5 separate regions of the Homo sapiens genome follow, and all the other regions are reported to be linked to region 2. Evidence: microRNA targets listed by miRTarBase, many of them from high-throughput screens and not tested one by one. Region 2 holds a microRNA gene; each other region holds the end of a gene's coding sequence.

Evidence for each region. Region 2 holds the annotated microRNA hsa-miR-3155b (CCAGGCUCUGCAGUGGGA, at 2,929-2,946, shown strand). A microRNA usually pairs through its seed, bases 2 to 8, with sites in the 3' UTR of a target mRNA and lowers its output. Matches are read on the target gene's strand: a 7mer-m8 pairs with bases 2 to 8, a 7mer-A1 pairs with bases 2 to 7 and ends in A, and an 8mer does both.
Region 1: the mRNA of LARS1 is a reported target of hsa-miR-3155b. Seed matches in the 3' UTR shown: 7mer-A1 at 3,767-3,773.
Region 3: the mRNA of VKORC1 is a reported target of hsa-miR-3155b. The part of its 3' UTR that is shown has no 7-base or 8-base seed match.
Region 4: miRTarBase lists GBP6 as a target of hsa-miR-3155b. Seed matches in the 3' UTR shown: 7mer-m8 at 1,870-1,876.
Region 5: the mRNA of GEM is a reported target of hsa-miR-3155b. Seed matches in the 3' UTR shown: 7mer-A1 at 787-793.

What each region holds. Positions count from the first base shown.
Region 1 is chr5:146,109,506-146,114,610 of GRCh38, forward strand. It overlaps LARS1 (leucyl-tRNA synthetase 1), which reads right to left. Exons shown (of 32, transcript NM_020117.11): 32 at 3,529-4,806. The coding sequence ends at 4,601. Among named protein-coding and RNA genes, the nearest start is that of PLAC8L1, 6.5 kb to the left of the region's middle.
Region 2 is chr10:6,149,319-6,154,423 of GRCh38, forward strand. It overlaps MIR3155A (microRNA 3155a), which reads left to right and starts at 2,878; the gene lies at 2,878-2,959. MIR3155B (microRNA 3155b) reads right to left here and starts at 2,944; the gene lies at 2,889-2,944. It also overlaps a transcript of PFKFB3 not described here and the pseudogene RN7SKP78. RefSeq lists an enhancer at 2,248-2,297.
Region 3 is chr16:31,086,847-31,091,951 of GRCh38, forward strand. It overlaps VKORC1 (vitamin K epoxide reductase complex subunit 1), which reads right to left. Exons shown (of 3, transcript NM_024006.6): 3 at 4,008-4,496. The coding sequence ends at 4,288. It overlaps PRSS53 (serine protease 53), which reads right to left and starts at 2,097. Exons shown (of 11, transcript NM_001039503.3): 1 at 1,906-2,097; 2 at 960-980; 3 at 691-853; 4 at 1-52. The coding sequence starts at 1,963. RefSeq lists an enhancer at 1,774-2,274.
Region 4 is chr1:89,384,687-89,389,791 of GRCh38, reverse strand. GBP6 (guanylate binding protein family member 6) reads right to left here. Exons shown (of 11, transcript NM_198460.3): 11 at 1,632-4,562. The coding sequence ends at 4,323. Among named protein-coding and RNA genes, the nearest start is that of GBP6, 23 kb to the right of the region's middle.
Region 5 is chr8:94,245,792-94,250,896 of GRCh38, reverse strand. GEM (GTP binding protein overexpressed in skeletal muscle) reads left to right here. Exons shown (of 5, transcript NM_005261.4): 5 at 310-1,644. The coding sequence ends at 587. Among named protein-coding and RNA genes, the nearest start is that of GEM, 14 kb to the left of the region's middle.

The sequences.
Region 1 (5,105 bases), not on the chromosome of region 2:
CTTGTGTGTCCACACATGGCATAAAGGCAACAGGACTCCCTCAAGCCTCTTTTGTAAGAGCACTAATCCCATTCATGAGGAAGCCACCCTCATGACCTAATCACCTCCTACAGGCCCCACCTCTTAATACCAACACCGTGAAGATTAAGTTTCAACATATAAATTCTGGGGGGACATGAACACTCAGATCATAACAGCAGGATATTCATATAAGCCTCAAAGTATCAGCTCACAGACTACTTAATTACAAAAAGGAAGAGTAGCTTTTCAACCGAGAAATATGATGCTAATCAAATCCACAATACATTAATCCTGACATGATCCAGTGGGAAACATCACCTATGTAGTAATCTTGCCAAGAATTTTAAATCTGATTACAACCATGAGAAAATACAGAAATCCAGATTGTAAGCATCATGCTAACGACCAGCTTGATGTCTTCAAAGATGTTACTGTCATGAAAGATCAAAAAAAGAACAGAGAAACTACCCTAGTTTAAAGGAGATTAACAGACCTAACCACAAAATGTAATACTTGATCTTTGAATCCTGAGAGTTTTTCAAAGAACACATTATTGATGAGACATTGGGGAAGTTTTACTAGAAAAGCTTATTACCTAATATTATTGTATCATGTTAAATTTCTTGGGCATAATAACAACACTGTGATTATATAGGAGAATGTCCAAGTTCTTAGGAGTTGCGTGATAACCTATGGGAAGATGAAGTGTCATGGTGTCTGTAACTTACTGTCAAATGGTTCTGAATTTTTAAAAAATATTTTCTAAATACAATGTGTTATCCTGGATAGGATCCCATAATAGTAAAAAAAATTAATAGAAAAATTGGTGAAATCCAAACAAAGTATACAATTTAGTTAATCATAATGTACTCATGTTAATTACTTAGTTTTAACAACTAAACCAAGGTTAAGTAAGATGTTAACAGGAGAAACTGTGTAAAAGATGTACAGGATCTCTCCATATTAAAGATGCAACTTTTATGTAAGTCCAAAACTATTCCAAAATTAAAAGTTTATTTTAAAAATAGATACTTAGAGAGATAAAGTAAACGTGACACAATATTAACAATTGGCAAATCTAGGTGACAAGCGCATGGATGTTTACTGGCCAATTCTTTCCACTTTTCTGTAGGCTTAAAATTTCTCGAAATGAAGTGTTAAAAGAAAATAAAACTACTGAAGGTTAAAAGTAAATGAATGGAAAAGATAGTCTGCATGGACGTTAACCAAAAGATAACTGGTGTTACTATATTGTTAGGCAAAGTGGTCTCTAGGCAAAAAATAAATTAATTAAAAATAAAGAGAAATGGCCGGGTGCAGTGGCTCACGCCTATAATCCCAGCACCTTGGGAGGCCAAGGCAGGTGGATCACGAGGTCAGGAGTTCGAGACCAGCCTGGCCAAAATGGTGAAACCCTGTCTCTACTAAAAATACAAAAATTGTGGGGGGACGGGGGAGGGATAGCATTAGGAGATATACCTAATGCTAAATGACAAGTTAGTGGGTGCAGCACACCAGCATGGCACATGTATACTAACCTGCACATTGTGCACATGTACCCTAAAACTTAAAGTATAATAATAATAATAATAATAATAAAGAAAAAGAAAAAAAATACAAAAATTAGCCGGGCGTGGTAGCAAGTGCCTGTAATCCCAGCTACTCGGGAGGCTGAGGCAGGAGAATCGCTTGAACCTGGGAGGCAGAGGTTGCAACGAGCCGAGATCGTGCCACTGCACTCCAGCCTGGGCAAAAAAGAAACACTTTCTAACTAGAAAAAGTTCAACTTACCAGAAGGAATATAATCTGAATTTATATGTACCTAACAAAACAGCCTCAAAATATATAAAACAAAAACTGTCAGAATTATAACAAGATACAGGTAAATTTCATTGTCATGAGAGATTTTGGTATACCTCTCAAAAACAGAAAGAGAGAAAACAGTAAGGATATAGGTTTGAACAATTCAATCCACAACTCTGACCTAATGGACACATACAGTACTTTTGCATTTACAGAATATATATTTTTTTCAAGCTCAAATGCAACATTTATAAAAACTGACATATACTGGGCCAGAAAGCTTATCTCTAGCGACCAGAGAAGGCAAAAGGCAGACCTCTGTGGTGCTGGCACTGTGCCATTCTTCAACTGTTTGGTGACTGTGCAGGTGTTTGCTTTATTAATAAATTCTTTTTTTGGAGGTGGGGAGAGAAAGGAAGTTCATTTTTTGTGTGTGTATATTTTTTGCTCACTTTTTGTGTATGTGCATTGTATTTCAAAACTTAAAAAGAGTTAAAATCCTCTAGGAAGGCACTAACATAAGTTATATATAACATTATTATTATGCACCCAATTATATTATTGTTAATAATAGAATAAGCCCAGTGTAGCCTGTTTTTCCTTCAGCATTTCAACTAACTGCTGGTTCTTCTGTTGAGTACCAGATGAAGTAATGGGCTTATGCTCAGACGACTCCTTATACAAAACATTTGTATCTCTACACATAAGAAGCATATTCAGCACAGCAAGAAGCTTATTCTAAGAGAGACACACAGAAATCAAGACTGAAAAAACAAAGGATCCATGAATCTCAACTCACACCTAATCCAAAACAGTACAGGTTCATAAGATGAACACAATCACAATATTATTTTCCTTTCTCTCTCTTTTTTTTTTTCTGGCCAAGCACACATAGTTTAATTTTCCTAAGTTAAACACAAGTAGGTTTGTGTTTAGGCAACAGAAAGTATTACTTAATTTCAGAAATAATTAAGGCTTTGCAGATCAGAGAGGACAGCAAAAGAATCTAGAGGAGTGCAAAGAAAGAATCAGTTGCCCCAAAGGAACCAACACAAAGGACATGATTACAGACTACAGTAATCTGAAGCCAATATACCTTGGTATCCATCATCTTCTTCTTCTTCAATGGTAACATTCACTAAAGACTTACTACTTGCCAGGCACTGTGTTATGATTTTCCTAGATCAGTTCACCTAAACGTCTCACAATAAGCCTACAAGGTACCAGTATTAGTTCCATTTTATAGATGAAGAACTGCAGCTCCGAGTAATTGGCCAAGAGCATCCTAGTAGCAAAAAGAAGAACTGGAAATCTAACCTAGCTAGTCTGATTTCAGAGCATGCGCTCTTACCCCACTATGCTATAGTGCCTGTCCCTAGTAGATAAGTGATTATTTGCACTTGATGATTTCTAATTCTAACATCCTATGATTGGCTTCAATAAATCTGTGATAAACCATATGACTAGGCCTAGTGGTCCCTAACTGCGGAGAGCAAAATAAGGAAGCTCAATAAACTCTATTTACATAACCGCAGTTAGAATTCAGGTTCCTCTGGGTTATCAAAATTGTTCTTTCTCCATATTAAACCCATCAAAATTAGAAATGTTTCTCCTGTTAGTCAATGCCTTACATTTTTTCCTCATATGAAGACAGATGGCGCAGATATTAAAAGACACTCCAACAAGAATAAAAGAATAAATCTGTAATAGTCAGCATGACCTCTATTTTATTGATTGATTGATGGATTGATTGAGACAGAGTTTCACTCTTGTTGCCTAAGCTGGAGTGCAATGGCACGGTTTCAGCTCACTGCAACCTCGGTCTCCCAGGTTCAAGCGATTCTCCTGCCTCACACTCCCAAGCAGCTGGGATTACAGGTACCCGCCACCATGCCAAGCTAATTTTTGTATTTTTAGTAGAGACGGGGTTTCACCATGTTGGTCAGGCTGGTCTCAAACTCCTGACCTCAGGTGACTGCCCACCTTGGCCTCCCAAAGTGCTGGGATTATAGGTGTGAGCCACCACACCCGACCAGCATGACCTTTAAACACAATTGGACTTAAGACAAATTTAGTAAATGCAGATTTCTGGGGGGGAAGGGGGGAATCTTCTTTTAAAATGCCCATATTTAGTGTAGGTGAAATATACTGCTTATAAACTATTGATATTAGCCTTGAAGAAGCCATTATTGGTTCTTAGTTGAATAATTAAAGCTTTAAAAAGTCTTATAAAATGCAGGACCTATTTGTTCTTTATACAAAATACTTAGTAATTGAAGTCAAGTCAAAATATTCTCATTAGTTCTTTTAAATCATCATGAAGTTCTCTTCATTTAAAAAAAAAAGCTGCTAATTTACTACTTTTCTTTTTTAAAAAAAAATACAGCTAACTCCATAAATGAATATACTATAAAAAGCTGTTAGGTACACCTTAGCCTTCATCAAAGTATAAAGTACACCTCATAAAAGAAGCATACTGACACTTTTATGTTCATCTTAAAAACCAGAAACTTCTAGGAAATAGCAACAATTTGTTTTTTAAAAAGAGTTTGGCAAAAACCATTTCTCTTGGACACCCAAAGAAAGGGAAAAAAAATTTATTAGGTCCAGGAATCAAAGATGACTTGATAGAATTATGAATACATGCAGAATTGGATGGTTAGAAATGAAATCAATCTATTTAGGTCCAGCCTAAGGTTCTGATAGCCAATCAGTAGACACAATCAGAGTAGTAGTATTCCTAAGAAACCAGGATAAATCTCCAATGTGCATGAGTTTAATGAACCAGATAGATTATTGTATCGCCAATATCCACCCTTATCCCATTCTCAGTCAGATGAATTTTCTTGCTCATGAGGTCCACATTGAAAACAGCATGCTCAGAAATGGGGGTCTTCTCGGTGTACTCCTTTCCCAGGACAGGAACTCGTCGAGGCCCCAACAGTGGATCATCAAATCTCATCAGTTTCACTTTGGAAAGGTCTACAACAAAATAAATTATCAATATAAGCATTTAATTACAGTCACTCAAACCCTGGAGCAGTCTGAGAACTCACGTTTTAAATACGCTGGTTGTTATATCTAAACAAAAATATTTTCTTCAGATTATTAAATAAAAGCCACGCTGGGTGCGGTGGCTCACACCTGTAATCCCAGCACTTTGGAAGGCTGAGGCGGGTGAATCACTTGAGGACAGGAGTTCGAGACTAGCCTGACCAACATGGCAAAACACCATCTCTACTAAAAACACAAAAAAATTAGCTGGGCCTGGTGATGGGCGC
Region 2 (5,105 bases):
GGCTCATGCCTATAATCCCAGCACTTGGGAGGCCAAGGCGGGTGGATCACCTGAGGTCAGGAGTTCGAGACCAGGCTGGCCAACATGGTGAAACCCTGTCTCTACTAAAAATCCAAAAATTAGCCAGGGGTGGGGGTGGGCGCCTGTAATTCCAGCTACCTGGGGAGCTGAGGCAGGAGAATCACTTGAACCCAGGAGGCAGAGGTTGCAGTGAGCCGAGATCGTGCCACTGCACTCCAGCCTGGGCGACAGAGTGAGACTCCCTCTCAAAAAAAAAAAAAAAAGATACAAAATGCACTGTGTGGGATGTGAGGGCAATCTGGCTGTGACATCTGTCACCCCAGTAATCGTCAGGGTTGATTTGGCTGATCTGGCTGGCTAGGTGGGTGTCCCCTTCCTCCCTCACCACTCCATGTGCGTCCCTCCCAAAGCTGTGTGCTCGGTCCAAGAGGATGACCATCCCCAATAGAGGAGGACTCATCTTCAGTCAAGGGTACACGAGTAGCTGCACTCCCCTGCTAGAACCTCCAAACAAGCTCTCAAAATGCACTGTGTGACCTTACTATAATATCCTCCAGTTCCATCCCAAGGATTTCACTCTTTTTTATGGCTGAGTAGTATTCCATGTTGTATATGTACATTTTCTGTATCCATTCATCTGTTGTTGGACACCTAGGTTGATTCCATGTCTTGGCCGTTGTGAATAGCGCTGCAATAAACTTGGGGTTTGGATGTCTCTTCACGCCTTTTAAGTTCATGCCTTTTCTGTCACCTTTTCCATTGATTCTATGCACATAGCACCTCTTGCAGGCATATCTTGTCCCATAACCAGACCGGAACACTCATTTGTTCTCAGAATGCTTTCTGCATGGTAACTTGGAGAGCTATTTGAGTTACGGTCTATACCTCATGCTTATATTGGACCTGGTGGTAGCAAGTGTTTCATAAATTCTTCTACTTGGTTAATCTGTCATTTTCTTTTGGAATGAGTAGTTGCAGAGCCACATTAAGATCCTTATAGGCCAGGCACGGTGGCTCATGCCTGTAACCCAGCACGTTGGACGGCTGAGTAAGGTCAGAGGATTACTTCAGACCAGGCGTTCGAGACCAGCCTGACCAACATGGTGAAACCCTGTCTCTACTAAAAATACAAAAATTAACTGGGCGTGGTGGTGGGCGCCTGTAATCCCAGCTACTCAGGAGACTGAGGCACGAGAATCACTTGAACCTAGGAGGCGGAGGTTGTGGTGAGCTGAAATCGTGGCCACTGCACTCCAGCCGGGGCGACAGAGCGAGACTGTCTCAAAAATAACAATAATAATAAATCCTTATAAACCCTAAATGCTGAAAGATGATGGCATTTCCCCATGCGTAATTTAAAATAAAGACAATACCCAGGCTGTGCGTGGTGGCTCACGCCTGTAATCCCAGCTCTTCGGGAGGCCGAGGCGAGTGGATCACTTGACGTCAGGAGTTTGAGACCAGCCTGACCAACATGGTGAAACCCCGTCTCTACTAAAAGTATGAACAATTAGCCAGGTATGGTGGCGGGCACCTGTAATTTCAGCTATTCCGGAGGCTGAGGCAGGAGAACCGCTTGAACCTGGGGGGGCGGAGATTGCAGTGAGCCAAGATCCTGCCACTGCACCCTGGCCTGGGCGACAGAGCCAAACTCAGTCTCAGAACAACAACAACAAAAAGCAAAAATTGCCTATCATTCATGACGGCAGGGGAAGAGTTCCAAGATTTCCAGCTGGGCGGTTGAGACGGTGGACCAGGACAGCAGGGAGACGGACACAGGGAGGGAGCCCCAGTCTGTGGAACACCATCCCACTTACCGTAGCTCCCCACTGGCAGTGTGTATGAGTCTTGGTGGTATCTTGTGTGCGGGTCTGAGCTAGGGGGCGTGGCCCCAGGAGCATCCAAGGTTCTGGTTGGGGCAGCCACAAGGTGTCTGAAGAGCAGCGGGGTTTGGTCGTCCTGGCACTTCCGCAAGCAGCCTTTCCAGCTGTAGCTCCGGAAGGTGCTCTGACATGACAGTTCAAAAACACACTTCCCCCTGGCCTGGGCTTCAACACTCACTTGTCAGAAAGTGAGGTCCTGTATGCCCCAGTCCTCGGCCAGAGAAGCAAGAAGCAGATTTCCCAGAGGCTGTGGCCCCTTGCATTGGTGAGGACACTGGGGTGCTACCTCTGTTTGAGGGGTGACTGACAACTGTGCTTTCTTAGGGTGGAGTTGGTCTGCTGTCGTGACTGTCTGCTTGAGATACTGACCCCTGGCGATCAGATTCTGGAAGTCCTCTCCTGAGGCTGCTGAAGTCGTCCCAGAGGCTTGTCCAGCCACAGCAGTGGAGAAAGATCCAATCAGGCAGGCAGGGGCAAACGGGAAGTCGGGAGGGTACCCTCCCCGCTCCCTGAGAAGTGTGGACTTTCAAAAGGAAGTGAGAAAGAGGAAGGTCTTGCCTAGGCATGGGGTAGACCTGTTTGATGCAGGCGGACTTCAGGGAAAGCTGGTCCTCAGTGCCACAGTGCTGTGGCTGTCGGGCGGCAGGCACTGGCTCACAGCCGTGGTGGGGACGCCTTGTTTCTCGGAAGGACAGAACCGCCCTCCTGCAGCTCCTGTTCCTGGCTTCACATTAGAATTAACTGGGGAGCTAAAAAAAAAAAAAACCTGATGCCCCAGAAATTCTGATTTGATAGTTTCTGCCTTGATGCCTAGACAAAAAATGTCCTGAAACAATACTTCACCTCAGACAATACTGTACATGCTGATGTTTTCTAGTCTGTTCCATTTCATTAAGAAAGATTCTGGTCTTATTCCAGTAAATTGATTTCAAGGCCACTAATGGGTGGTGACCCACACTTTTGAGATGCCTGTTCCGGGCATCACCTCCCACTGCAGAGCCTGGGGAGCCGGACAGCTCCCTTCCCAGGCTCTGCAGTGGGAACTGATGCCTGGAACAGTTCCTGCAGCCGGTCTCCAGTGTGATTCAGGTCCTGCGGCAAGTTCTAGGTGGTCCAAGTGAGGCAGAAGCCTTGCTGGAGGCTTTACCCGTCCACACTGCTGTGGAGCCTCTGAGCCTCCATGGAGGCTCCCCAAGCCAGGCAGCAGGGGAGGAAGCGTCTGGTAGGAGGGTGGAAGGCATCACGATAACTAGCCACCTGCAAGGGCTAAATCTCTCTGGGACGTTTGCACGAGGAACATTCCGAACCCATGAATAGAGGAGGGCTGCGGATCTGGTAGCTGAGGAAATTCAGTAGAAAAGCGAGAAATGTATGCCAGGTGCAGTGGCACACACCTGCAGCCCCAGCTACTTGGGAGGCTGAGGTGGGAGGATTGCTTGAGCCCAGGAGAGTGAGACCAGCCTGGGCAACATAGTGAGATCCTGTCCCTACAAATAAAAAATTAAAAAATTAGCTAGGTGTGGAGGCATGTGCCTGTAGTGCCAGCTACTTGGGAGGCTGAGGTGGGAGGATTGCCTGAGCCTGGGAAGTTGAGGCTGCAGTGAGCCTTGATCGTACCGCTGCACTCCAGCCCGGGCAACAGAAAGAGACCTTGTCTTTAAAAAAAGGAAGAAGAGGCTGGGCACGGTGGCTCACGCCTGTAATCCCAGCACTTTGGGAGGCTGAGGTGGGCAGATCACCTGAGCTCAGAAGTTCGAGACCAGCTTGATCAACATGGTGAAACCCCATCTCTACTAAAAATACAAAAAAATTAGCTGTGCATGGTGGTGGGTGTCTGTAATCCCAGCTACTCGGGAGGCTAAGGCAGGAGAATTGCTTGAACTGGAAGGCATTGAGCCAAGATCATGCCACTGCACTCCAGCCTGGGAGACACAGCGAGACTCTGTCTCAGAAAAAAGAAAGAAAGAAAGAAAGAAAGAAATAAGAACAGAGAAAAGCAAGAAATGTAATTGAAAGGCCGATGGGCTGCCCTGTCCTGCGGGTGCCTACCCTCATTTATGATGCAACTGAAGTCACTTCCATAAGCTCTTCGGTCCTTTCAGCAGTGCCCAGTAGGCCAGGGGCGGATGTAAGTGCAGAGGCTGCGGCAGTGAACAAAACAGACAAACCTCGGCCATGGAGCTTACATGTGAATGGGGTAAGCCTGTGTGGCTTGGTCCTTGGTAGATGCTTTGAGTGGCTGGTAGGAGGTCATGGTGACCTCCCTGGGTTGGTGAGCAGGTGAACGCTGCATGTGTCAATGGATGTGAATGCCAAGAAGAAAATAACTCAGGAAAGAGGAGGGGGAGGGGCTGGGCGAGGTGGCTCACACCTCTAATCCCAGCATTTTGGGAGGCCGAGGCAGGCGGATCAGTTGGGGTCAGGAGTTCGAGACCAGCCTGTACAACATGGTGAAACCCCTGTCTCTACTGAAAATACAAAAATTAGCTGGGTGTGGAGGCAGGTGCCTGTAATCCCAGCTACTCAGGAGGCTGAGGCAGGAGAATTGCTTGAACCTGGGAGGTGAGGTTGCAGTGAGCTGAGATCGCGCCACTGCACGCCAGCCTGGGAGACAGAGCGAGACTCCATCTAAAAAAAAAAAGAGAGGGGAGAGGGAGTCAGGGACCGGGAGGGAGGATTGTGGTTGCACACAGGATGGTCACTCCAGGGGACATTTGGACCAAGACTGAGGGGAGTGAGACAGCCTGAGGGGAGTGAGGCAGCAGACAGTACCATTAGCTCAGGAGCATGTCCAAATAGGGAAGTGCGAGGCAAAGGTCCTGTGGCCAGAGCGGCTGAGTGCAGGAGGAACCTGCGGGCCAGCACCGCTTCTGCAGGGTGAGAGGGTGGAAGCCAGGTGGACACAGGCTTAGGAAGGGAGTGGCGGCTCAGCACGTCCTCATCTCCCATGGTAGGGCCTTGTTTGGCCTCTCAGCTGGAGACAGGAAGGCCTGGGAGGGTTTTGGTGGAGGTGTGGGCTGAATTAATTTTTTTTTTTTTTTGAGGCAGGGTCCCACTCTGTTGGCCAGGCTGGAGTGCAGTGGCGCGTTCTCGGCTCACTGCAACCTCTGCCTCTCGAGTTCAAGCGATCCTCCTGCCTCAGCCTCCAGGGCAGCTGGGATTACAGGTGCATGCTACCGCGTCCAGCTAATTTTTTTGTAT
Region 3 (5,105 bases), not on the chromosome of region 2:
CTGCAGAGAACCCAGGACCACTGACCAGGAATTCAGTTCTGTTGCTGCTGCCCTGGAAGGGGAAGGACAAGGTCCAGGCTGCTGAGTGCAAGGGTAGACAGTGACACCATGGGAGACCCCACAGGTAGGTGGAAGATAGCAGAGAGCACTCCACGGCTTTTTCTTTTTGAGGTAGGGTCTCGTCCTGTCGCCCAGGCTGCAGTGCAGTGGCATGACCATGACTCACTACAAGCCTTGACCTCCCAGGCTCAAGCGATCCTCCCACCTCAGCCTCGTGAGTAGCTGGGACTACAGGCGTGCACCACCATGCCTGGCTAATTTTACAGTTTTTGTAGAGACATGGTCTTGCTATGTTGCACAGGCTAGTCTTGAACTCTTGGGCTCAAGCGATCCTCCCTCCGTGGCCTCCCAAAGGGCTGGGATTACAAGCGTGAGCTACTGTGCCCGGCCTCAGTCTGTGACTTTAAGCGAGGTCATTCCCTTGCAACCTGAGTTTTCTGATTTGTAAATCTTCTACCATGAAAGGTGGTTGTTACAATTAACTTGACAATATGTACCCAGTACATGGCAGATTCTCAGTAAATGGTTCTTTATTATTACTCTAGAGGCAGGGACTAGCCTTGTGGGGCTTGAGACAAATTGTCCACTCCCCAGAGCCGGAGACCCTGCCTGACCCCAGCCATGACTTACTTTTCAAAGCAGTGGGCAGCAGTGAGGACCCAGGTGTCTGCCACCAGGGAGCCGCTGCAGATGTGGGCTCCTTGCCTCCTCACACTGGCCTGCCAGGGCCACTCGCCAGGGACTGTGTTGCCCTCCTGAGGCTTGGGGGGGCCGGGGCCACGCTGTCCACAGGCTGTGGAAAGGAGTTAGTCACACTGACAGCAGATACCTGTCCTGACCTCACCCCAGTCCCAACCCAGACCCAAGTAAGACCTAGGCCCCGTGTCCCCAGACCTTACCACGCTGAGCGGCTTGAAGACCTGGGAAGAGAGAGACACAGGTAAGATGCAGGGACTCCAGGCCTGCCTAGCTTTGGGGAGGAGAGGGGATGGGCTGGGGGGCGGGCCCAGGGTCCTTGCCTGTGACTCTGATTACCTTACCAGCCCCTCCCAGAATGAAAATATTTATATGAGGCCGAGACAGCTTTTATTGGAACCTATTCAGTGTGCACACTCAGTAATTAATTCTCCTTCAGCTGTGCTCAGCACTCTGGGGCTTGGGGTTCAGCTTGGGAGTAGGCCAGCCCTCCTCCAGGCTTCAGAACCCCCAACTCCTGCCCCCGCCACTGAGTCAGCCAGGCGGCCTGTGTGTGTAGAGAGCATTAGCTTAATTGTCCTCTTAGCAGCAGAGGCCTAAGAGGAAGGATTAGAGGCCTGCATCATTTCCAAGTGGGGAGGGCCCCAAGAAATGGAGACTTACCTCACCCTGGTCTAGAGACTCAGTCTTCCCCACCTTCCCAGAAACTGTCTGAGAGCCCGCCAGAGAGAGGGCCCCTGCCCACCGCCCCTCACAGGCACACAGGCACCCCATGAGACAGCTGAGCCAGGCTGCCCAGAGGATGGATGAAAAGAAAGGGAAACTGAGGCCAGAGGAGCCCAGAGTTTGCCTGACGTCATTGTGGAAGTCGAGGGGGAGGCAGGCACAGGACACACGCAGGCAGCACCTCACACACACACAAGACCACAGGCCCCGCCAACGCAAACTGCAGCTGGCCCGAGAAAATCTCATCCATGTTGACACAGGTGGCCACATATACCACCCCACAGAGTCCTACGGAGTTACATCCCCACTGGTGGACTGTCGCCCACAGGCGGTCCCCCCACCAAGAAGCAGGGACTGCTGGGGCAGAGATGGCCCCTGAGCCCCCACCAGGCCACACCCATACCCCAGCACATGGCGGCTTACCCTCCATGAGGACTGTGGCACCCGCGATGAGCAGCACTGGGCCCCAGCACCACTTCATGCTGCCCCGGGCCACTCTGCCACCTGTGCTCCACTCTGAGAGAGGCCACCTGGGTCTCCCTGGCTCCACCTCTGCTCCACCTCCAGTTGGCTAGGATTCAGCTGTCTGCTTGCCCTAGCCAGCAGTTCCTAGCTCTGGGGCTGTGGCTGTGTGACCCTAGGCTTGTCACCACCCCTCTCTGGGCCTTAGCCGTGGAGCCAAATTGTCTGGGTTTAAATCTGTTTCCTTACTACTTGAGTGGCCTGGGAGAGCTAACCTGCCTGTGCCTTGTCTGAGAAACAGTTGTTGAATGGAAAACGTCTCAATGACAGCCTGGCACAGGGCAAGCTCACTCCCAGCATGAAAGTGCCATCCTGGAACCATGGAGGGCACGTGGGCAGCTCCTCCCAGTCCCCACTTTTCATTTCCACTCCCCCACTTCTCTTCCAGCCAGGGCTAGGTGGGTTTCACATGCCTTCTCCCAGGTCTGCTCAGAGACAGTGTGTGCCAGGCTGAGTGGTGAGGAGCCAGCACCCACTGCTGCTTGCTCGCTGTGAGCCTTTGGCAAATCCCAGTATCTCCCTGGGCCTGCTGGCTTCCTGGGAAACAGGGTGACAGCGGTGCCCACCTTCCTCATAGGCGCAGAGGACTCGGTCAGGCGGGAAGAACACTTTGGCGCGTGCCTCCTCTTCCTCTTCCCACTCCTAACTCAGGCTGGCCCAGACCATTCAAGAACCCTGACCCCAAGACAGAGGCAGCTGTGGGTAAGGTTTAGCATATATTATAGATGCTGGCCGGGCATGGTGGCTCACGCCTGTAATCCCAGCACTTTGGGAGGCCAAAGCAGGCAGATCACCTGAGGTCGGGAGTGCGAGACCAGCCTGACCAACATAGAGAAACACTGTCTCTACTAAAAATACAAAATTAGCCAGGCCTGGTGGCGCATGCCTGTAATCCCAGCTACTCGGGAGGCTGAGGCAGGAGAATCACTTGAACCTGGGAGGTGGAGGTTGTGGTGAGCCGAAATTGTGCCATTGCACTCCAGCCTGGACAACAAGAGCGAAAGTCCGTCTCAAAAACAAACCAACAAAAAAAAAAGCATATAGATGCTGGAGCCAGATGGACCAGGTGGATTCAAATCCTGAGAGCCTCCTGCAGTAGCTGTGTGATCTCAGGCATACTAATTAGCCACTCTGTCCCTATCATCAAGATAGGGATAATAATAGTACCCACCTCATAAATCACTGTAAAGATTAAACGAGTTTAACACGTTAACACAAGTTTTTTTTTGTTTTTTGTTTTTTTTTGGAGACGGTCTTGCTCTGTTGCTCAGGCTGGAGTGCAGTGATCATGGCTCACTGCAGCCTCAACCTTCTGGGCTCAAGCAGTCTTCCCGCCAGCTTCCCGATTAGTTGGGACTATAGGTACATACACCACCATGCCTGGCTAATTTTTTTTTTTTTTTTTTTTTGTAGAGACAGGGGTCTCACTATTTTGCCCAGGCTGGTCTGGAACTCCTGGCCTCAAGTGATCCTCCTGCCTTGGCCTCCCAAAGTACAGGGATTACAGGTGTGAGCCACTGCACCCTGCCAACACAAGTTCTTAAACAGTGCTTGGCATGTAGGTAAGTGGTCAGGGCATAATAGGCAAAACAAAAACCTTCACAACCTGGCCCTGACCCTCCAAGGCTACCAATACTGGCTTGGAATGGTCGATAAGGCAACTGGAGGGGTTAAAGTTAAACTCAAGGAAGAACTTCCCAGCAAGCATTTACAGAACCAGAAGGGCAGCCTGCCCTTCCAGGTGTGTGCTCAGCCTTCCCAGGAGAGGAGGCCTGGCTCCTGTGGGCAGCAGGAGCGAGCTGCCAGCCTGTTTCCTGGGGGTGGGGGCCAATGGTGCCCCAGGCCTTGCTGACTCCACACACTGGAGATGAGACTACCCATAACCACCCTTCCCAGCAGGCCCTCCACTCTCCCTCTGACTCACCCTTCCCAGCTCCAGAGAAGGCAACACCGAGGGAGGCCCAGCACCACAGTCCATGGCAGACACATGGTTCAGACTTGGCTGATTGATCTAAGAAACTTTATTGCTCAGAACCTTCCCTCCCTGGGCAATGGAAAGAGCTTTGGAGACCAGCCCATGGGGACAGAGTCAGAGGCACTGGGTGTAAAAAAGAGCGAGCGTGTGGCACATTTGGTCCATTGTCATGTGCGGGTATGGCAGGAGGAGGGGGTAATCTAGAAGCCCCACATCTAGGGCCTTCTAGGGACCCAGATATGCCCCCTTAGGCAAGGCTCACATGCCAAAGCAAAGCAGATGAGGTCAGCCTGGCTTGGGTTGAGGGCTCAGTGCCTCTTAGCCTTGCCCTGGGGTTCTTGGACCTTCCGGAAACTGAGCCACATCAGGCTCACGTTGATAGCATAGGTGGTGATACAAACAATGCAGAAATCATAGAGCACGAAGAACAGGATCCAGGCCAGGTAGACAGAACCAGCGAGAGACACCAGGGAGCTCAGCAGCATCAGGACAGAGGCCCAGCGTGTCCGCAGGCAACCTGCAAGGCAGAAGAGGGTCCGGTGTGGGCTTCAGGCACTGGCCACCTCCCGAACACTCCATGATGTCACTGCACTACCTAGATGCCAGGAGCTGCTGGGAAGGGTCTCTAAAACAAGAGGCTCCAGGGCAGATGTGGTGGCTTACGCACGTATTCCAAACACTCTGGGAGGCCGAGGTGGGAAGACTGCTTTAGGCTAGGAGTTCAAGACCAGCTTGGGCAACATAGAAAGACCCGATCTCTATCAAAAATTTAGAAATTCAGCTGGGCACGGTGGCTCATGCCTGTAATCCCAGTATTTTGGGAGGCCAATGGGGGTGGATCACCTGAGGTTAGGAGTTCGAGAGCAGCCTGGCCAACATGGCAAAACCCCATCTCTAATAAAAATACAAAAATTAGCCGGGTGTGTTGATGGGCACCTGTAATCCCAGCTGCTGGGGAGGCTAAGGTGGAGAATCGCTTGAACCTAGGAGGTGGAGGTTGCAGTGAGCCGAGATCATGCCACCACATTCCAGCTTGGGCAGCAAGAGCAAGACTTCGTCTCAAAAAAAAAATGCCCGGTGAGGTTGACTCACGCCTGTAATCCTAGCACTTTGGGAGGCCAAGGCG
Region 4 (5,105 bases), not on the chromosome of region 2:
CCCTTCCTTACACCTTATACAAAAATCAATTCAAGATGGCTTAAAGACTTAAATGTTAGACCTAAAACCATAAAAACCCTAGAAGAAAACCTAGGCAATACCATTCAGGACATAGGCATGGGCAAGGACTTCATGTCTAAAACACCAAAAGCAATGGCAACAAAAGACAAAATTGACAAATGGGATCTAATTAAAGAGCTTCTGTACAGCAAAAGAAACTACCATCAGAGTGAACAGGCAACCTACAAAATGGGAGAAAACTTTCGCAACCTACTCATCTGACAAAGGGCTAATATCCAGAATCTACAATAAACTCAAACAAATTTACAAGAAAAAAACAACCCCATCAAAAAGTGGGCAAAGGACATGAACAGACACTTCTCAAAAGAAGACATTTATGCAGCCACAAAACACATGAAAAAATGCGCACCATCACCGGCCATCAGAGAAATGCAAATCAAAATCACAATGAGATACCATCTCACACCAGTTAGAATGGCAATCATTAAAAAGTCAGGAAACAACAGGTGCTGGAGAGGATGTGGAGAAATAGGAACACTTTTACACTATTGGTGGGACTGTAAACTAGTTCAACCATTGTGGAAGTCAGTGTGGCGATTCCTCAGGGATCTGGAACTAGAAATACCATTTGACCCAGCCATCCCATTACTGGGTATATACCCAGAGGATTATAAATCATGCTGCTATAAAGACACATGCACACGTATGTTTATTGTGGCACTATTCACAATAGCAAAGACTTGGAACCAACCCAAATGTCCAACAATGATAGACTGGATTAAGAAAATGTGGCACATATACACCATGGAATACTATGCAGCCATAAAAAATGATGAGTTCATGTCCTTTGTAGGGACATGGATGAAATTGGAAATCATCATTCTCAGTAAACTGTTGCAAGAACAAAAAACCAAACACTGCATATTCTCACTCATAGGTGGGAACTGAACAATGAGAACACATGGACACAGGAAGGGGAACATCACACTCTGGGGACTGTTGTGGGGTGGGGGGAGGGGGGAGGGATAGCACTGGGAGATATACCGAATGCTAGATGACGAGTTAGTGGGTGCAGCGCACCAGCATGGCACATGTATACATATGTAACTAACCTGCACAATGTGCACATGTACCCTAAAACTTAAAGTATAATAATAAAAGAAAAATAAATAAAATAAAAGAAAAAAGAAGAAAACCCCCCAAAAAAATTTTTTTTCTGAGTTCCATGTCTTCTAAAGAGTCATTGAACCTGAGGATGGCCTTGGGGTCTCTTGATCCCACTTTGTTGTCAAAATGGGATTCACTAGAATGTCTCTGAATCATTGAAACATGGCAAAAGCATGCTCAGAAAAGGAAGGATGAGTGGTGCTTATAAGGTGGTCTTATTGTGCCCCGACTGAATAGTGTCTTAGTCTTCTTGAACTATAGTCCTTAGATAACATTGAATGGGATTCTTGTTAAAAGCATCAAAGATATCTGAAATAGATCTATCCAGTTTTGAAAGTATCAGATTTGACCTGATATGCAATACAGGATATTGAAAGCTCTAAAATTGTCTTCATTTCTTTACAGATCTGGGTGAACCACTCTATAAAGCACAGAGAAAAATTCTTTCTTTGATATAGTTTTATAGAGACTGTGATACATGAAGTTACAGATTTGTGTGAGGTCATAGGTTTGTCTGAGTCACTGTATAAAGCACAGAAAAAAAAATTCTATCTTTGGCCCAGTTTCACAGAGACTGTAGGACATGAGGTCTAGAGAAGGACACTATACCAGGAAAATTTATTTTCTTCTCATAGCTTTAATTTAGTTTAATTTTTTGAGACAGAGCCTCACTCTGTCGCCCAGGCTCTGTTGCCCGGGCTGGAGTGCAATGGCACAATCTCGGCTCACTGCAACCTCCACCTCCCAGGTTCAAGTGATTTTCCTGCCTCATCCTCCTGTGTAGCTGGCATGACAGGCGTGTGCCACCACACTTGGTTAATTTTTGTATTTTTAGTAAAGGCAGGGTTTCGCCATGTTGGCCAGGCTGGTCTCAAACTTCTGACCTCAAGTGATCTGCCTGCTTCGGCCTCCCAAGTTGCTGAGATTATAGGCGTGAGCCACTGCACCTGGCCTCATAGCCTTTAAACCACCTCAGAGACCTTAATCTGGTGTCGAAAATTCAAACAACTTATTACCACTGATCTCTGGAAAGTTCATGATATTTTATCAATTGAAAATAATCACCCATGCATCAGCCTATTGTTTTTATAAAAGAAGCTTATTTAGCACAACCTATGCCTGAACATACTCCCAAGGAGATGTACAGAAAAATAAGGTATCTGTCTTCAAACAAACTTTACCTTTACATTTCAAACAAATACTATATTGCAATAAGTTCATGTGTGCCAAGACTATAATTACAACCTGGAGGCCCTAATTCCCTATTTTAACAGGCATTTTACGATGACTCTCCATGATCTAGGTACCATGGGCAACTTGGATCCTGATTCCAAGGGTCCTTGAAATATTTGGGTGTTTGTATTTCCCTAGTATATGGATATCTAGTAAATGGCTCCAGACGTTTCCTAGGAGGAGAACTTGGGAAATCATTATCATTTATTTGGGTCCTGGAGTTGCAGTGTCCTTTCCTGGGGTACTGCCCTCCACTCCAACTGAGTTCAGGGTCTGAAATTAGCTCAGATCAAGGCTATGGATGTGACACTTTATCAGGGCTACCTCTCAACATCCTGATAGACAGCATTTACTTCACTTGATTGTTTTCTCCCCATCCCATTTAACCCTATGGCTGGTCCATTGTATTGACCATCTTCAGAATTATCTCCATCAGGCCTTGCAGTCTGCCACTCATTACTATAACTGAATCTTCTTAGATTCTAACAATTAAGGGTCAACACCAGGCCTCTATGTGTCTGGGTCTATCATCCCCCATCAGGGGGTTCAGTTCTGGAAAGGCACATTGTCCTTTCTATCTGAGGCTACCGCAAAAAGACCACTACTGACAAGGTTGGCAGGATCCTTCCTATCAGTGCTTAATCTTAATGTTTGGTAATTTATGCTTCTAACACCTTAAAACTTGAATTCAGAGAAAGGAAGTAGAGGCTACTGTAGCTGAGATTTCAAAGGCCACAGAAAAGTGTATGCCTTAGTCTCGAAACAAATAGAAGGGATCGAAAAACCAGGCCAAAATGAAAACAAGAATATGATGCAAATTTTTTGCATTCTAGTACTCAGATCTTAGTCTTAGACCCCTCATTGGGCTGGCTGATGTAATTCCTAGAAGCAACAAGGAATTTCATCATCTGATAGCCAATTTCACTATTTTTTTATTGTTATCATTATTAGCATTGTCTCTTACATTTTCTTATTTATTTCTGAATCGGTAAAATAAGATTTCTTTACAAAATTCAAGAGTATAAAGTGAAGAGTATGTGTTCCTTCAACCCCTACATTCACTTGGTTCTTCCCAGAAGGAGCCAATAATAATAGATTTTGATTAATCTTTCCAGAGATATATTTGCATGCTTCCATATAATAATTGCATTTTTTCCATGCTGATAAGATAATCTACATTGCTTTACAACTTGGTTTTTTTTTTTTTCATTTTACAATGTCTCTTCAAGACCATTCTTTACTGGTACAAATAGAGCTTCATTGTCAATTTGTTTACTGGCTATATAATATTCCAGTACATGCACATACTAAAATTTATCTTACCAATCTAATGTGAAGGACATTCAAGTACATTGCAATATTTTGCCATTAAAAGCAATGCCTCAGTGGACCTCTTGTATGTAAATGATTTTTCAAAATTATATTTCCTAAAAGTGAACAAAGTTTTTCAAAGTGTGTATGGATCTGTTCTCTCATGTGGGCCAGGCACTGATATCCTCTAATAAGCACTTTTTATGTTTAAAACTTTGCTAAATGAGGGCTGGGCATGGTGGCTCATGCCTGTAAACCCAGCACTTTGGGAGGCCGAGGCGGGTGGATCATTTGAGGTCAAGAGTTCGAGACCAGCCTGGCCAACATAGTGAAACCCCATCTCTACTAAAAATACAAAAATTAGCTGGGTGTGGTGGTGTACACCTATAATCCCAGCTACTAGGGGGCTGAGGCAGGTGAATCTCTTGAACCCAGGAGGCAGAGGTTGCAGTGAGCTGAGATTGCACCACTGTACTCCAGCCTGGGCAACAGAGTAAGACTCTGAAAAAAAAAAAAAACTTGCTGAATGAAAATGAAAAACATACAGATCAAAAATAGTCCAAAGCATATATGTACAATCTATAATATCCTTAAAAGGGGAGCTTATGCTTTTTAAAGAGTGAGCTCACACCTTTGACACCATGACCAATTAATTTAGCAGGAGCAGACAATATTGCAGTTAGCTCATCGGCAAGGTTGTCCAAGGTTCGTGCAATCCAGGGAGTATCATCATTTTTTGTAGTATCAATCATACGTTTAAATTGACTTATCTCTGCATTCATCTCCTCATACTTCTTCTTAAATCCTTCATGAAGCCAATCATTTTGGACCTAAAGACAATGTAGGAAGGAAAGTAAATTTTTAAAAATCCCTATTCTTTTAAGACTTACATTTTGTATTTAAAACCTGTGTGAAACTTTATTTTACTCCTAAAAACATTTTCTCAGTTATTAGAGGAGAATTTGGACCTAGACATTGTGAGGAAGCATAGTTTATAACTTTACTAATATCCACCCACCATTATGGTTTTGCTATGGTGCTAACCTAGGTATGAGGACAAATTCTACATGTTCCTGCCCAAAAGATGCCAGTTAGGAGGTAGCCATTGGTCTGATTGCATAAATTCTCAGTCCCAGTTGGGCAGCATGGTCACCCATATTGTAGGAATACCAAAAACTTATAAGCTGATGTAGAAATCCCTTATGAGAGAACTTTCAGATGGACAATGCAAGAATTCTCCCTACACTGTGTGCTAATTTGGGCAGGCTACCTATACAGGGTGACAACTGCAGCAAGTTTAGAAACTGTCCCTTTCCTGTCCTTTTAAGTCTGGAAATTTCTAAGAGTTGTATGTCAGCATGGATCTACCTCAG
Region 5 (5,105 bases), not on the chromosome of region 2:
TGTAAGTCAGCAGTAAATTAAGGGTATGGCTTTTACTGTTATAACTAATATCACTATATTTGATGAAATGGGACCTTCAGACAGTGAATTTATGGGGGATCAGATCTAAAGCCCATCTCCCTTACTTCCAGGGACCCTCCAGTGAGACATTTTCTATTCATGCCCTGGGAGGGCCCATGCCGCAGCAGCATCCTCTATCCACTGCATATACAGCTGACTTAGTGTTACCTCGAAGAACCATCCAGCTTGACTGTGTGCTATGTGGGACTGTGCTCTGCAGTCCCTCTGACCTCTTTCTTTCCTTCCCAGAAGGGAGAGCCTGTGCAGTGGTGTTTGACTGCAAGTTCATCGAGACCTCTGCAGCTGTCCAGCACAACGTGAAGGAGCTGTTTGAGGGCATTGTGCGACAGGTGCGCCTTCGGCGGGACAGCAAGGAGAAGAATGAACGGCGGCTGGCCTACCAGAAAAGGAAGGAGAGCATGCCCAGGAAAGCCAGGCGCTTCTGGGGCAAGATCGTGGCCAAAAACAACAAGAATATGGCCTTCAAGCTCAAGTCCAAATCCTGCCATGACCTCTCTGTACTCTAGGAACCCAGGGTCACCCAGATGTCCCTTTGATGGCCGTTGTTGAAGGCCATTGGGACCAATAATCTATATTAGATTGAATACTTAAGTTAGATGTGGTTTCCCCCATTGTAGCAGGGAGCTAGCGTATTAGCCTTGTGGGCAACATGATGCATGGGAAATGAAAGATTTTTGTAAAAAGTCAGTATTTATTTCCAGGAAAAGCCTGACCTTGCTATTTGAACACCCAAGACTCTTTAGAGGATGTGTTTGGTGTTCACATGTGTTTCTTCTATTTTGGATAGTAGAGAAGTAAAGCTTACAAAGAATGCCTAGAACAAGAACTTTTCATCATTAAAAATTTTTCCCAGTGTTCTGATATGTGACTTTGAGGCCAATGAGTCATAAACAAATATAAGAAAGCTGTCAATGAGTTTCTTCAAAGGAGGGAAAACTTTCTACGAATCTAAGATCCATGGAGCTAGAATTGTAGAACTAGGCTCATCAGAATCGTGACTATTATTGCTCCATCAAACTGTGAAAAGAAATGATGTGGACCTTGCTGGAAACAAAGGCTTAGCAAACAATTTTTGTTCAATGCCCACCAAGACATATAGAATTGGGAACTGATACATGTGTCCCTTATAGGCTCAAAAATTATATCTTACAATTTCTTATTTAGGGGGAAATTATTTGAATCAGATTCTATTTAGTCAAACCACCTTTTATGTTTTATTATTTTTGAATTCATGGAGCCATCATAAAAATATTTTTAAAATCAGAATTATTGATACCCTGTAGTGCAAAATGTCAATTTTTAATGTATAATCAGAAGTCTGAATTTTTATAAAACATATAGCATAAAAACTTCCAGTACTTTGGTTGACCCTTGTATGTCACAGCTCTGCTCTATTTATTATTATTTTGCAAAATAACCATTTTAACATTTGATAAAGCATATTTATGAACATATTTCTTAATAAGAAAAATATCCATTTTATTACCATTTTCTATCTTTTTCAAAATATGCAAGTTTTTACCTATATGTCTTATAATAAAAGAAATAAAATATTTGAAAAAAGGCATTCTTGATTGATTTTCCTCCCCAAACAAGATGATTAGGATTATTTTTATACAGCCTTTAGAGCAAGCACATTCCAAAGAGACATATGCCTATTGTTTTCTTTCTTTTTCTCACTAGCAATAGCCCAGTCATTATCCGTTTTAAAGGATATCCCTGACATCTCTGCTTTGAAATCACGATTCACGGTAATGCAAAGTTGTTTTTGGCTGATACCGTTGGGAAGTATTTGGGGTCATCTCAATGCTGTTATAGGAAAAGCCAGATTGACCTTTTACTTTGGTCTGGCAAATGCCTGACTGAACAGATGGGCTTCACTTTGCTCCCTGGAGGCTGATGGTCTTAAGCTTGACTAAGGCATTAGAGGAAGTTATAAAGGATTAGGGGGAAATAAAATAAAGGAATCTAGTGATTTCCAGCCTGAGATCTAGCCAGGCAAAGCTTTCACCAAATTCTCCTCTCTGACATTAATATGGCTTGACATTAATCACTTGGCATCTATCCAGCGGCCGTATGCAGCCCTTTTGCTGGAATGGAACTTCTGGTGTTCTCCCTTCACATCTTCTCTGGCCCTATATGCACCCTATTTCATTCTCTTCTCCCTAGCTTTTTGAGTTTGTAGTGAGACACACACTGATGGTGACAATCATGGGACTTCAGACATTCCCTAAAGCTACACAGTTGTTGTTTTCTTGAGACGGAGTCACTGTGTCACCCAGGCTGGAGTGCAGTGGCGTGATCTCGGCTCACTGCAACCTCCGCCTTCTGGGTTCAAGCGATTCTCCTGCCACAGCCTCCCAAGTAGCTGGGACTACAGCATGCACCACCACGTCAGGCTAATTTTTGTATTTTTAGTAGAGACAGGGTTTTACCATATTGGCCAGACTGGTCTTAAACTCTTGACCTCAGGTGATCCGCCTGCCTCGGCCTCCCAAAGTGCTGGGATTACAGCCACAAGCTATCACGCCTGGCCTTAAAGCCACGCAGTTTTAAAGGGTGTCTGCTCTGTTTTCATTGCCCTTTCTCCCCTTTTTCCAAGTTGAGCACAAAGGTTCCCATCTCTCTGCACTTTGCATCTTAGAATTGCTCAAGGCAATAGCATGGGGAGATGATACAAGTAAAGATTCAGGTTACATAGATCTGGGGTGAATTTTGGCTGTGGAATTTAGCAACATGGCTTTGGAGTAAAGGTTAAAGGTTTCTAGCTATCAGTTTTCTCATCTACCAAATGGGATTGCTAATAATACCCACTTGGTAAGGTTAACATCTTTGTGAGATTAACATCTTTTAACCTGCCATACAGTAAAGAGCTCAAGAGATCTTCCTTTTCATGGTTGCACATTTTCCATTCCGTATCATTTAGAGTTAGTTTTACATGTCTGTTTCCCCTAATTTGAATGGAAACTCCTTTGAATCAGGGACCACCACTCTGTTCCTCCTTACCCTTCTACTCATCAGTGCAGCGCACTGCATATACTGGGATTTTACGAACTTTCTTCTTGAGCTTCATAGATCCTCCCAACACCTATGTGAGGTCAATAGGCCATCTCACAGCAAACCAGTTCAGGTGGATAAATGACTTGTCCAAGTTTGTTCAGATGCTAAGTGTCTGAGCTAGGACTGAGGTCCACCTGTGACTCCTGGTCACTTGTATATTCTTATCTCCAAAACTTTCCTATAAACACAGCCTGTTTCATCCCCAGGTATCATCCTATACACAGAATACACAGACACACACACACACACACAAAATGCATATATATTCTTTACACTATTTTTCTCACAATCTCAAGCTTCCTCATCACTTCTTTTAGACCTTCCCAACCAAATGGCCAACAGATGCCAAGGCTCCAGGTTTAAGGGTATGTTCAAGGTTGTCATGATCACATTCCCTTGGCTTGAAGCAGGGCAGGATAATGCCGGCTGCAATCCAATCCAAGAGGATTTTTGGTTAAGAGCTTTAGCTCCAGGGTTAGACAAACCTGGGTTTCAATCTGGTTTCATCACTTACTGGATGTGTGGCCAAGAGTCAAGTTCTTTACTATCTCATAGCCTCAGTTTTCCCATCTGTAACATGGGAAGAATGCCCACCTCATAGGGTTGTGGTAAGGATTATGTGAGACCTGCAAAAGTTATGTCATCATCTCAGGGACAGCACTGACTCTGCCTGCTCTAGTGCAGCATCCACACCTTCACACATTCATGCATTCTTCAAATATTATTGGACACCCAGGTGCTAACAGCTGCTGGGAATATAATGATGGCTAAGATATTATCCTCATCCTCAGAGATCTCAAGAGTAATAAATTTGTCCTGAAAAGCCAAAGGAGGTAGCACTGGTGATAGGAAGAAAATAAAGAAATTGTGAGAGGATTATACCAGGAAGGGACTCAATTTTTATTCATTAGATAAAATTCAAATGATGAAAACGTTTGTTAAGATGATTGAGTTAGATGTGGAAAAGAAAATTGGGCCATTTAAAAAATTCCAGTTGGGAAAAGTGGGAGCATTGGGGAAAGGTGAGTTTTTAAGCATCCTACATTTTTGCTTACAAATACATGAACTATTCAATGCAGAGAAAGATGCAGATGATTCTAAATTCACTTGGGCAAATTTGTGGAGCTCCGGCTTAAGAAAAGTACTGTGGAGAACACATGGTGGGAGGAGGCAGTTTTGCCTTTAAGGTGCTTGTAATATAGTTAACAGTGGCAGGAAGCAGATGTAGTAGGGAATGGAGACAACTGCACAGAAACCTAGAACGTGAGGTTGAAGATAATATGGGCCATCGGAGACATGTGCTGTAAGGCAGTTTAGCTTTGGTGGAAGAAAAATCCTTTGCTTGGCGTTGCAGTAATGAATGTCTTTTTTTTTCTTTTTCTTTTTCTTTTTTTTTTTTTTTGAGACAGAATCATGCTCTGTTGCCCAGGCTGGAGTGCAGTGGCATGATCTCAGCTCACTGCAACCTCCACCTCCTGGGTTCAAGCAATTCTCCTGCCTCAGCCTCTGAGTGGTTGGGATTACAGGTAGGTGCCAACACGCCCGGCTAATTTTTGTATTTTTTGGTAGAGACGGGGTTTCACTGTGTTGGCCAGGCTGATCTCGAACTCTTGGCCTCAAGTGATCTGCCTGCCTTGGCCTCCCAAAGTGCAGAAATTACAGGCGTGAGCCACTGCACTGGCCCATGGATGTCTTCTTAGAGGAAGTGATGTTGAGCTTCATCTTGAAGACTACACAAGATTTCCACAGGTAGGATTGGTTGAAAGGAAGAAAAAGGGAAAAACTGGCCTATGTAAAGAAAATAGCATGAGCAATGACAGAGAGGCAGGAAAGGGAGAAATCTATATAGAAAAATGAGAGAAGTCCAATTTGGCCGGGAGCTTTCTGGGAGGCGTTAAGTGAAGGTGTTAATGTATGATGCTTGATAGCCTGAGAGATTTAGTTTCAAATTCTTACTTGTTGGG